Homo sapiens: one gene and its partners. The protein of the gene in region 1 interacts with the protein of each later gene in a biochemical or structural test. Each region holds a gene or a part of one and is shown on either strand. Other genes may lie near its edges. The genes, in order: FRMPD4, SLC15A5 and MAST3.

Region 1 (3,653 bases):
ATGACATGCCAAGAGCATGTAAACCATATTTACAACAAACTTAAAAACGTAATGTCTGGAAGAAAAGTAAAAGGTAGAATTTTAAAAGGCCACAGAACTGTAAAGTACCAATCATTGATCCCCTGGTATTTAATAAATACTAAAGATTATAAAGGTGAAAATGGCATTTGCTCTTTATAATCTTACTCTGTGCTTGCTTTCAGAATTGGATGGGGCAATATGTTTTTCCTAAATTCTAAATGCAGATGTTTAGCAATGCCCAGTGTGACTTTTAGTTATATGATAGTATTGCTTAGAGTCACATAACAGTTTGATTTTCTTCCCAAGACATCTGAGTTCTAATTCTGCCATTTCATTATTGAGGGACAAGGAAGGATAAGAGAGCAGGGTATCAGGGAGATTGGAGGGGTTTGGAGAGATCATTTGCCTTTCGGCAATCTTACTGATTCCTCCCTACTCTGTAAGACTGCTCTATATGGATGTTCTGAAGTGTCTTGCATACCCCAGTGTCAGGAAGATTTTGAGGCTATTCCTGATGAGCTGCTTTATTTTCCCCAAAATAATAAAGTGTAAACACACGTAGAAAAAAGAACACATCCACCTTCTGTATCCCACCTTCACCACTCCACCACTCAATGGCAGGCATTCCCCTCACCGATCCACTTGGCTGGCCATCACATGGCAAAAGCAGATACTCTTTCATACTTTTATGTTTCAAATTATGTCATCAATAGTGTCTTTTCCATACAGGTCAATGGAAGTTAGTGACATCTTATATTGGTCATTTTCTATTCCTGTTCTTTTAAGATTTTCTACTTTCTCAAAACCCACCACTGGCTTTACCTCCTTTGGAAAAGCTGTCTGTGAATATCACCTAACTCATCACCCAACTGCATCTTTACCTCTAAACTAAGTCACACTGTTTAATCCTTCATGATTTATAAAGAACTTTCACCTGAGTTACCTCTTGCTTCTCACAAAAATTCTGTGAGATGGGGATTATTTGCTTCACATGACAGCTTTTCTTAAAGAAAAAAAAAAATGTTGAACAACTGGCCCAGTGTTTCAACTTCAGACTTTTACCAGGCAAACCTCATGCTGACTTCTTAAAAAGATTCACTTATTTAATTTGCACTAATTAAATTAGGCCACTTCTTTAAAAGAAAGAAAGGAAAGAAAGGAAAGGAAAGGAAAGGAAAGGAAAGGAAAGGAAAGGAAAGGAAAGGAAAGGAAAGAAAGAAAGAAAGAAAGAAAGAAAGAAAGAGAAAGAAAGAAAGGAGGAAGAAAGAAAGAAAAGAAAAGAAAAGTAACAATGCCAGATTTAACCTAATTCCCTTGAAATGAAACTTAATATCTCCAATATATTTGAATAATCTATACACAGTTGTTTTCTGTGTCTAAGCTTTGATGGGTAGATATTGGGAGTAAGGCAATTCATGAAATCCCTGAAAATGTTTGGGATTTCTAGACAATTCCAAATGAATCAGCAGTTCCAGAAATAACAGATTCCAGTATTTTCTTGATATTCATTAAAATGGAAATTTGTTATGAGATATCAAGAGGCAGTCTTTGGAAAGCAGGGTGACCTTAGCATCGGCAGCCCTTCCAGACTACAACCTTGAGAAATGACAGACATCATGTAGAGATGTAGTAAAAATGACCTCCCAGGAGATGCTTAATGATTCTCTCTGTTTTTCTACTACCCCTAGTGTAGCTTTGACAGAGCCTGGGAAGGAGAGACGAGGAGGCATGCCTTCAGCTTGGTCTCAACATCCTGAAGCTGATCCCATCCTGCTACCATCAAACATTCACTCGGAATCAAAGGTGCCAATTCCAAATCAAGACCCTAATGATTTCTCCCAAGCAAATCAGGCATACGGAGAGGCTGTGAGCTGGCGGCCACCGGATCTGAGAGGGGGGAGCCTCAGGACACCTCCCAGCCAGAAGGCTCTGAGACATAGCAGCAGTATCCTCTCCGGATCTGTCGATTTGGAGACCTTCCGAGAGAGAACCAAGGGTGCAGTCAGCTTAAAGTGTCCAGGCATCACAGAAGCACAGGAGGCCAGTTCTGAAAGGCGAGCAGAACTCCCCCTGGGGAGGAAGCTCACCAAAAGTTTTTCCCAAAGCTCAATGCACTTGAGCTCTGAGGGGAGGTTTCACAAAAGGTCCCCAGTGGCTCATAAAGACTCAAAGCTGTATAGGACATTACCCTTGCGGAAGCTGGAGGGCAGCAATTGGAGATGCCGGGGACCCTTCAGCTATTGCTTCCTGAACCGAGGGCAGGATGAAGATGGTGAGGAAGAAGAGGAGAGGGGAGAGGCCACCGTCCAGGTCTCTTGCCTCTATAGACCACAGATGACTCAAGCCATGCCAGAACCAAGCAGCCCATGCCTGGCTGTGGCGATTCAGAAGCAACGAGGGGAGCTATCCAGAGGGTCAGTGCTGAAGGTCTGGGCAGAAGACCTGCGAGACCCAGATGACTTGGACTTCAGCAACCTGGCTTTTGATGCCCGGATTGCAAGAATAAATGCCCTAAAGGAGAGCACATATGCAATGCCTGATGGGTTCCTTGCAGCCCAAAATGATGCCAATGAGCTGCTCTGTCTCGTCAGGGCAACCAAGGAGAAGAGGGAGGAGTCACGCCCTGAAGCGTACGACCTTACACTTTCTCAGTACAAGCAACTGTTATCCATTGAGTCCAGACAGTTGGGAAGTGCCTGTAGGAAAATGGCGATGGCTGAGAAAAGCCCGGAGGAGATGCTCCTAGCTATGACTTCCAGCTTTCAAGTGCTCTGTTGCCTAACAGAAGCTTGCATGCGATTAGTTAAAGTCGTGAACTCAGAAACACAGCGGCAGGAAATTGTAGGGAAGATCGATGAAGTGGTCATAAATTACATTTGTCTACTGAAAGCTGCCGAAGCAGCCACTGGAAAGAACCCTGGGGACCCTAATGTTGGACTCTCGGCGCGACACTCAACCACCATGGCCGCTCTCGTAAGCACACTGACACGTTCTCTCAAGAGGCTTTTAAACAAATAAATATGGAAGTCACGTCATAATCTACCTTTGCAAAGCCATACATGAACTTTTATTTACTTTGTGTGTATGATGAACAGATGTCTCCTTTCTTCTCTCTGTATATTTTGTTATTTTATATAAAATAGGAGATAAAAGTCACATTGATGAAATGTTGAAATGTACTAATCAGATGTATTCTGTTTATATTATACATATATATACACGTAAAAGAAATATCCAAGAAAGTGATGACATTTGGCTATTTTTCATATAGTTAAAACTCCAGGTATATGATGTGAAATTTTAAATTCTACCATGTTAGAGCAAAACAATGAATCCTATCCCCTTTCTTTCCAAGTAGCTACTTGGAAACCATATCATTCATATTTAGAAGTAAAACACAAAACAAAAAAGAGAGAGAAAAGAAAAGAAATCACAATGTATATAAAACAGTACTTATGTTTTAAAATTATGATTTTTAAGCATTGGAAATAGCAAAAAGACATTTAAAATTCAAGAAGCTATTATGAATTACTAGAGAATATATCTGTAATAAATTAATTTTTTGCTCATAGTATTTGGTTACTGGATGCTTTCTTCCAAGAATCCCACATATTTAATTTGGGTTTTTGCTA
Region 2 (3,753 bases), on another chromosome or scaffold:
AACAGACTAATACACTGCCATCTGAATAACTCAGCTGCCACCATGCCCATTCTTAAGTCATTCCACTCAAGATTAAAATTCCACAGGAGAAAAGTAAAAGGACTATCTTAGACCGGGTGTTGACCCACTTGGTTAGAAGAAAAGGCATATGCTGATCAACAGCCCCACCATGATCTCAGGTAATAGATAGGAGTCATTCTCCAAAGGTAGGGTGAACACATGTTAGAGTGTTGCCCTGGACAGTCCCAGTTTATAACTGTTTTTTTTTTTTGGGGAGTAACCATAAATAGCATCACTTTTCACCTGCACAAAACTGTCCAAGTTTGGATCATAAATTGCATGATCAATTTACACAAAGGAAATTTAGGGCATCGTTACCAAAGTAGCAATGCTGAGCAGAGACAAATAGCTACCATTACAATGAGGCTATTAGAAGGGGTCAAAACAGAGTATTTTGCCCCCAGTCTCTCACAACCAAAAGATGATAACCAGAGTCAAAAGTCCCTATTGGTCTTTAGGTTTTGACTACAGCATGAAAATAACATTCCTATACTCAAGTGTTGAATTATTATGACTTTGACCCAATAGTTCCGGTCCCTTTTCTTCCTATGTCCTTGCAGCTAAGCCACTAAATGTTAAGGTGTTCTCTTTCACTGCTGCTTTTTTAGCTTAATTGGCCCTCCTGCTTTCCAAAATAGAATGCTAACACCCATTCACCCAGCTGAAGGGTCAGGGTGATACCAGATCCAATATTCCCCAAAGCCTGTGTAGGCTGGTTGCTGTATCCCTGACTACTGATTAATAATAAAGGAGTTAAATAGCACCTTTTGATTCTGATTTCCTCTGAGAGGCTGTTCTACAAGCATGGGGTCAACTAAAAGGAAGCAGGGTTTCGTTTAATATTTTCTCCTTTCATTAGTGCACTTAAATTACTTTCTTGTAAACTCTGCTTGTTACCTAAATGTACTAGCACTTTTGTTACCTAATTAAGTTTCTTATCAGAATTCCAACCAAAAATAACAAGAAATGTAATAATGATAAGATATCGTGCCCTTCAAAACAGATTTCCTTTTGCGCTTTATCTCTTGGTACTGTTCTGGCTTGTTTAATTAAAGTATCAGAAATTATTAGACTCAAATTATTTCTTGATCTAGTGCTCAAATTCTCCCGAAAACCTGCTTCTTCTGCCTCAATATTTAAACCTTTATCAGTATGAGGCAGATGAGTTTCCACATGTTTGCAACTGGATTCATGTAATTCAATACAATTTTGGAGGACGATCCTAATTTAGCCGCTAAGTAATTAAGCAAACAAATCAGATTTGGGTACACTGAGCTACTGTGAACATTTAAATACTCATGCTCTTGGATCATCAAAAGGAACAACGTCCATGTGCAAAAAACAAACCTTATGAAATTCTAGCATGGAGATGTGAAATTCAAAGCAACGTTCTTATTTTTTTCATCAGAGGGATGGGGCTCAAAATATCACCAAGTTCAAACCACTAACATAAGTTTTGTTCAAGGAGGGTAGTCATGTCTGTTACAGGCTTTACCATAACTGATGAGAAAGTACACTTATATCACAGCATTGAGAAGGAGAAAACTGTAAGACATATTGGCGATTTGTGTTCCTCACACTCTGTGAAAAAAATTCAGGTTGGAATCTGCTTGCTTCTGGTGGAGCTGTGTGAGAGGTTCACGTTCTTTGAAGTCGTCTGCAACATGATCCCCTTTTGCACTATCAAGCTTGGCTATCACAATTGCCAAGCAGCCATCTTAAACTTGTGTTTTATTGGAACTTCAATACTTACCCCTGTGTTTGTCAGATGGCTCACTGATGTCTATTTAGGAAGAAACAAACTGGTGTACATTTGCTTGTTTCTACATTTTCTAGGTGAGTGTCCTCTGCTGACTGGATTGTTTTGTGACTTAATTAAGTAGATTTTTGTTAGAATTTTTAGTTTATATTATTTTCACTCTGCTCTTAGCATAAAATGTGATAAATGAAGTAAGAATGTGGGTTCAATGTATTTCATTCTTTGTACTATTTGAAGAATGCTAGTAAGTCTGTGTGTGTGTGTGTGTGTGTTAGAGAATGTTTTGTGCCTATATCATTGCATTTATATTTTATAATAATTACTCCTTTACATATCTATCTTACTCCTTAGAATGCCCTCCTTTCCCAAAACCTTTTTACCTCAAGCCTAAATTCATGACAAATTCCCTCAGAAATGTGAAATGTATTTGCTTCACAACTAAGATGAAATGTGCTAAAAAAGGTTTTTGAAGTTCATGTAAAATAATTGAGAAATGTTTTTATCCAAAGGTGGTCTTTTAATTAGTCATATAGTAATTAAGATTGCATATGATGGCATGATTTCTATATTTTTAACTATGATTATATGCTTTAGAAATGAGTAAATTAGACACTATAGTGTGCATCTTTACATATATACTAATATATATCTGCAAAAGTTTGGGACCGATTGTGAGAAATGCTGGGAAAATATCAAGATAGTTTAATAAGAAATAGAGAGCAACTTGAAGAACAGACTAGAATTTTAAACTGAAAAGTTCAAGTTATTCTTCTTAAGCAACAAGAAGTCTCTGAAAATATCATGAAAACAACATTTGAGAAATGCTATTCTGCAATACAGGATGGACAACCACAGTGAGGAATTAAATAGAGAGAGATCAGAAAATCTCAGGATGATGGTTTAAGCAATAAAGTGCCAATTCAGGAGAGAACAAGTGAAAAGCTGTAAGGCAACTAAATAAAGGTACAAATGTGATGGGGGTCAAAAATTAGCTCCAAGTTTCTGATCTGAGCAACTTGGGAATATAGCATGCTGTTCACCAATAATGAGAAGTGCAGCTGAAATGAGTATTGGTAGGGGGACAGATGAGAAAGAGATGGATAGATATCAGGTACTCAACATATCACACAATCTCAGGCAGGTGGTAAATTACCATTCAGAGAATCCATTGGAGTTTAAGTCAAACCTGGAAACTTCACAGCTTTAGTTCTGTGGAATAAAAACTAGGTCACTGCATGGCAAATAATCACTCAACATTCAACAAATATTTCTTATTGACTACTCTGTACCAGACATTATTCTGGGTCTGGAAATGCAATAGAGAAGAAAGTCGTCTGTTCCTGCTAAAGTTGACTTTTTGGTGCAGGGAGAGAGAAAATAAAAGAGGAAATAGATATGATGTCATGTGGCAATGAGTTAGGATGGAAAAATAAAGCTGGGTAGGGGGACAGGATGGAATGGATGGTGATGAGGCTGCTACTTGGTACCGAGAAAAAGTTTTCTGATAAGAAGACATTTAAGCAAATCCCAGACTAACTTACTCTGCTTACCTTGGTAACAGGCCACACCAGTAGCATTTGTTGACTTCTTGTTTAACATGGTAATTTCTATCAGTCTAAATTCTGAGGTCAGTCATCAGACAGGATGGAAATCCCAACTTTGGAATCTGGCAAACAAAAGACTTAAGTCAACTCTACATCCATTCATTTTTTTACTAAAAGTTATTTCTTTGTTGCCCTCCACTTACAGCTGCCATCAAATTCCAACTGTCACTAAATTTCAGAGGTTATATATAAGAAAGGTCTTCTGTCTGAATTGCTACTACCCTAGCTGAAAAAATGCAGCTTTCTTCTTTTTAACCATTCCAATGGCCTACTTACTCGGCTGCCAGTTCTCAGTCAGTCTCCAGCTTGTACTCCATTCTACCAACAACA
Region 3 (3,653 bases), on another chromosome or scaffold:
ATTAGTTCCACTTTTCAAAGGAAGAAACTGAGGCCCAAAGAGGGAAGTACCCACCAGGAAGCCAGAGAAATTCTAACCAATCTGGCACGTGAAGGTGTTGTCTTCATCAGCCCCAGTTTGGGGTCTCTTTTGACTGGAAACCTTGTTAATGGTCCAGGAGCACCCCAGCCAATCAGGGGGTAGATCGCTGATGCGAGCCAATCAGATTTCCTGGAGGCCAAAGGCCAAAGAGTCCATTCACAAACGGGTGCTGACCGGCCAATCCAGACGCATAGCCCAGGGCGTCCTCTCCGGTGGTGACAATGTGAGGCGTGCTGTTGGCTGTGTGCAGGAAAGGTCTGAAAAAGGATCCGGCCTGGCCCGCGGGCGGCCAGTTTGCGACAGCCCTGGGTCCAGGGAGGAGGTGGAGACCTTCCCAATTTGGGTTAAACTCAGCCTCACGCATAACGTGTGCAGGCACCGGGTAACGTGAGCTGTTATTACTACTACTACTATTATCTTATTACATTTATCATCTCCTACTTGGACCTTTGCTTTACACATGACCGAATTTCAAAACACCAGGTCCCACAAACAGAGCATCCCCCGGCAGAGAAGGGCTAGAGCCTGTATCTGGACTTTTGTCTCTGCCGCTACTGGGGTGGCTCCTCTAGGTTCAGCCCTCCAAGGTGATCCTGCTTTCTCATGGACAGCTTCCACTTATTTTCCTCCTCCTCCTCCTCCTCCTCCTTCTCCTTCTCCTCCTCCTCCTCCTCCTCCTGGAAGCCCTGGGGCTGGTGCCATGTGGTCCATGCTGACTTCTCTCCCATTTAATTCCAGGGGCATCGAACTTCCAACCGGGCTTGGTGCCCAGCAGGCTGAGTCTCACCTCCCTTTGCACGTGCTGTTTGCTGGGCATGGACTGGTGTTTTCCATGTGCCTGCAGGCTTTGTTTGACACCCCCTACTCCAGGAAGCCCCTTAGCTCTCCTCTCTGTGTGCCTCCAACCCCTCTTCTCCCTTTGAGTCTCTCTTTTTTTAGACAGGATCTTGCCCTGTCGCCCAGGCTGGAGTGCGGTGGCCCAGGCTGGAGTGCAGTGGCGCCATCTTGGCTCACTGCAGGCTCCGTCACCTGGATACAAGCGATTCTCACAGCCTCAGCCTCCTGAGTAGCTGGATTACAGGCGAGCGCCACCACACCCGACTAATATAATTTTTATATTTTTTAGTAGAGATGGTGTTTCACCATGTTGGCCAGAATGGCCTCAAACTCTTTTTTTTTTTTTTTTTTTTTTTGAGACGGAGTCTTGCTCTGTCGCCCAGGCTGGAGTGCAGTGGCGTGATCTCCGCTCATTCCACCTCCCAGGTTCATGCCATTCTCCTGCCTCAGCCTCCCGAGTAGCTGGGACTACAGGCTCCTGCCACCACACCCGGCTAATTTTTTGTATTTTTAGCAGAGACGGGCTTTCACCGTGTTAGCCAGGATGGTCTCCATCTGCTGACTTCGTGATCCTCCCACCTCGGCCTCTCAAAGTGCTGAGATTACAGGTGTTAGCCACTGCGCCTGGCCTTTTTTTTTTGAAACGGAGTTTCACTCTTTCGCTCTTCTTGCCCAGGCTGGAGTGCAATGGCACGATCTCGGCTCACCGCAACCTCTGCCCCCGAGTTCAAGCGATTCTCCTGCCTCAGCCTCCCAGGTAGCTGGGATTACAGGCATGCGCCACCACATCCTGCTAATTTTGTATTTTTAGTAGAGACGGGGTTTCTCCATGTTGGTCAGGCTGGTCTCGAACTCCTGACCTCAGGTGATCTGCCTGCCTCAGCCTCCCAAAGTCCTGGGATTACAGGCATGAGCCACTGCGCCCGGCCACCTTTTTTTTTTTTTTTTTTGAGACGGAGTCTCATTCTGTCACCCAGGCTGGAGTACAATGGTGTGGTCTTGGCTCACTGCAACCTCCGCCTCCGGGGTTCAAGGGATTCTCCTGCCTCGGCCTACCGAGTAGCTGGGACTACAGGCGCCTGCCACCACATCCAGCTAATTTTTGTATTTTAAGTAGAGACGGGGTTTCACTATGTTGGCCAGGCTGATCTTGAACTCCTGACCTTGTGATCCGCCCACCTTGGCCTCCCAGCGTGCTGGGATTACAGGCGTGAGCCACCGCACCTGGCTCAAACTCTTGATCTTAAGTGATCCTCCCGCCTCAGCCTCCCAAAGTGCTGGGATTACAGGCATGAGCCACAGCACCCAGCTGCTTCGGGTCTCTCTTAATCCCTCCAGTATGGGGGTGCTCCTGCTGTGCTATGTCTTCTCCAAAATGGGATTTCCTCAAGGTGGGGCTAAAGCTTGTTGGGGAGGCAGCATCCCCCAGCCTGGGCAAGCGCAGACGGGTATACCATAAATATTACCTTTAAAGGGCAGTTTCAGGGGGTCGGGGCCTCCCCAACCTCCACTCCTCTGGGTGGGAACCACTCCCAGGGGAACAGCAGGCACAGAGGGAGCTGTGGGTGGAAAGCAGATGGTGCGGGGACCGAAGGGTCCGGGAGTGGTGCCAGGAGAGTTCTGTGTGGTCCAGCTTCCCCGGGAGCCTTTGCAGGGAGCTGCCGATTTTGCCTCACCTCTCTCTGCCACTTTAAAAAAACATCTTCAGGCCAGGCACAGTGGCTCATGCCTGTAATCCAGCGTTTTGGGAGGCCGAGATGGGAGGACTGCTTGAGGTCAGGAGGTCAAGACCAGCCAGACCAACATGGTGAAATCCTATCTCTACTAAAAATACAAAATCAGCCAAGCGTGGTGGTGGGCGCCTGTAATCCCAGCTTACTTGGGAGGCTGAGGCAGAAGAATCGCTTGAACCCAGGAGGTGGAGGTTGCAGTGAGACAAGATCGCACCATTGCCCTCCAGCCTGGGCGACAGAGCAAGTCTCCATCTGAAAACAAACAAACAAACAAAATATTCACATCTTTTTGTCTTTTGGAAGCAACTTTCAACTGGTGGTTATTATTCACGTCTTGATCATTGTCTTGACTCCCATCCATCCAAGTCTCCCCCAGCACCAGGCTCTGAGCTTGCTACTCATTGATTCCTCCAGGGACCCTATGTCACTGGGCCATTTTCCAAATGAGAAAACTGAGGCACAGAGGGGTTAAGTCACTTGTCGGGTCACACAGTGCAGGAGTGGGGGAGCCAGACTGGGAACCTAGGACTGTCAGAGTTTTGGAAGGAAATGCCTGGATGGGGTGCAAGTGGGACCCCCCACCAGGGTTCAAATCCCTCCCTGTTTCACGTGGGGTAGTGGAGGAAGTGGTATAAGATCCCACAACTGGCTGGGTGCAGTGGCTCATGCCTGTAATCCCAGCACTTTGGGAGGCCAAGGCAGGTGGATCACTTGAGACCAGGAGTTCAAGACCAGCCTGGGCAACATGGTGAAACCTCATCTCTATAAAAAATACAAAAATTAGCCGGGTGTGGTGGCACATGCCCACAATCCCAGCTACTCTGGAGGCGGAGGTTGCAGTGAGCCAAGATTGCACCACTGCATTCCAGTCTGGGCGACATAGCCAGACGCTGTCTCAAAAAAAAAAAAAAAAAAAAAAAAAAAAAAAAAAAAAAAATTCCCACAACTATTGGAAGGGGAAGAAGGAGACCCTAATGGCCACGGTGATGGTGGTGATGGTTC

Evidence for each region.
Region 2: the proteins of FRMPD4 (region 1) and SLC15A5 interact in a test that uses a peptide from one of them, tested with the Homo sapiens proteins (one large-scale study listed by IntAct).
Region 3: the proteins of FRMPD4 (region 1) and MAST3 interact in a test that uses a peptide from one of them, tested with the Homo sapiens proteins (one large-scale study listed by IntAct).

Annotation. Positions count from the first base shown.
Region 1 is NC_000023.11:12,718,820-12,722,472, forward strand, and holds part of FRMPD4 (FERM and PDZ domain-containing protein 4), read left to right. Parts: intron 1-1,709; coding exon of another isoform or gene 1,710-1,714; coding exon 1,715-3,039; 3' UTR 3,040-3,653. UniProt on the Homo sapiens protein: Positive regulator of dendritic spine morphogenesis and density. Required for the maintenance of excitatory synaptic transmission. Binds phosphatidylinositol 4,5-bisphosphate.
Region 2 is NC_000012.12:16,275,468-16,279,220, reverse strand, and holds the start of SLC15A5 (solute carrier family 15 member 5), read left to right. Parts: upstream 1-1,535; coding exon 1,536-1,896; intron 1,897-2,695; exon of another isoform or gene 2,696-3,028; intron 3,029-3,369; exon of another isoform or gene 3,370-3,753. UniProt on the Homo sapiens protein: Proton oligopeptide cotransporter.
Region 3 is NC_000019.10:18,100,632-18,104,284, forward strand, and holds part of MAST3 (microtubule-associated serine/threonine-protein kinase 3), read left to right. Parts: intron 1-3,653.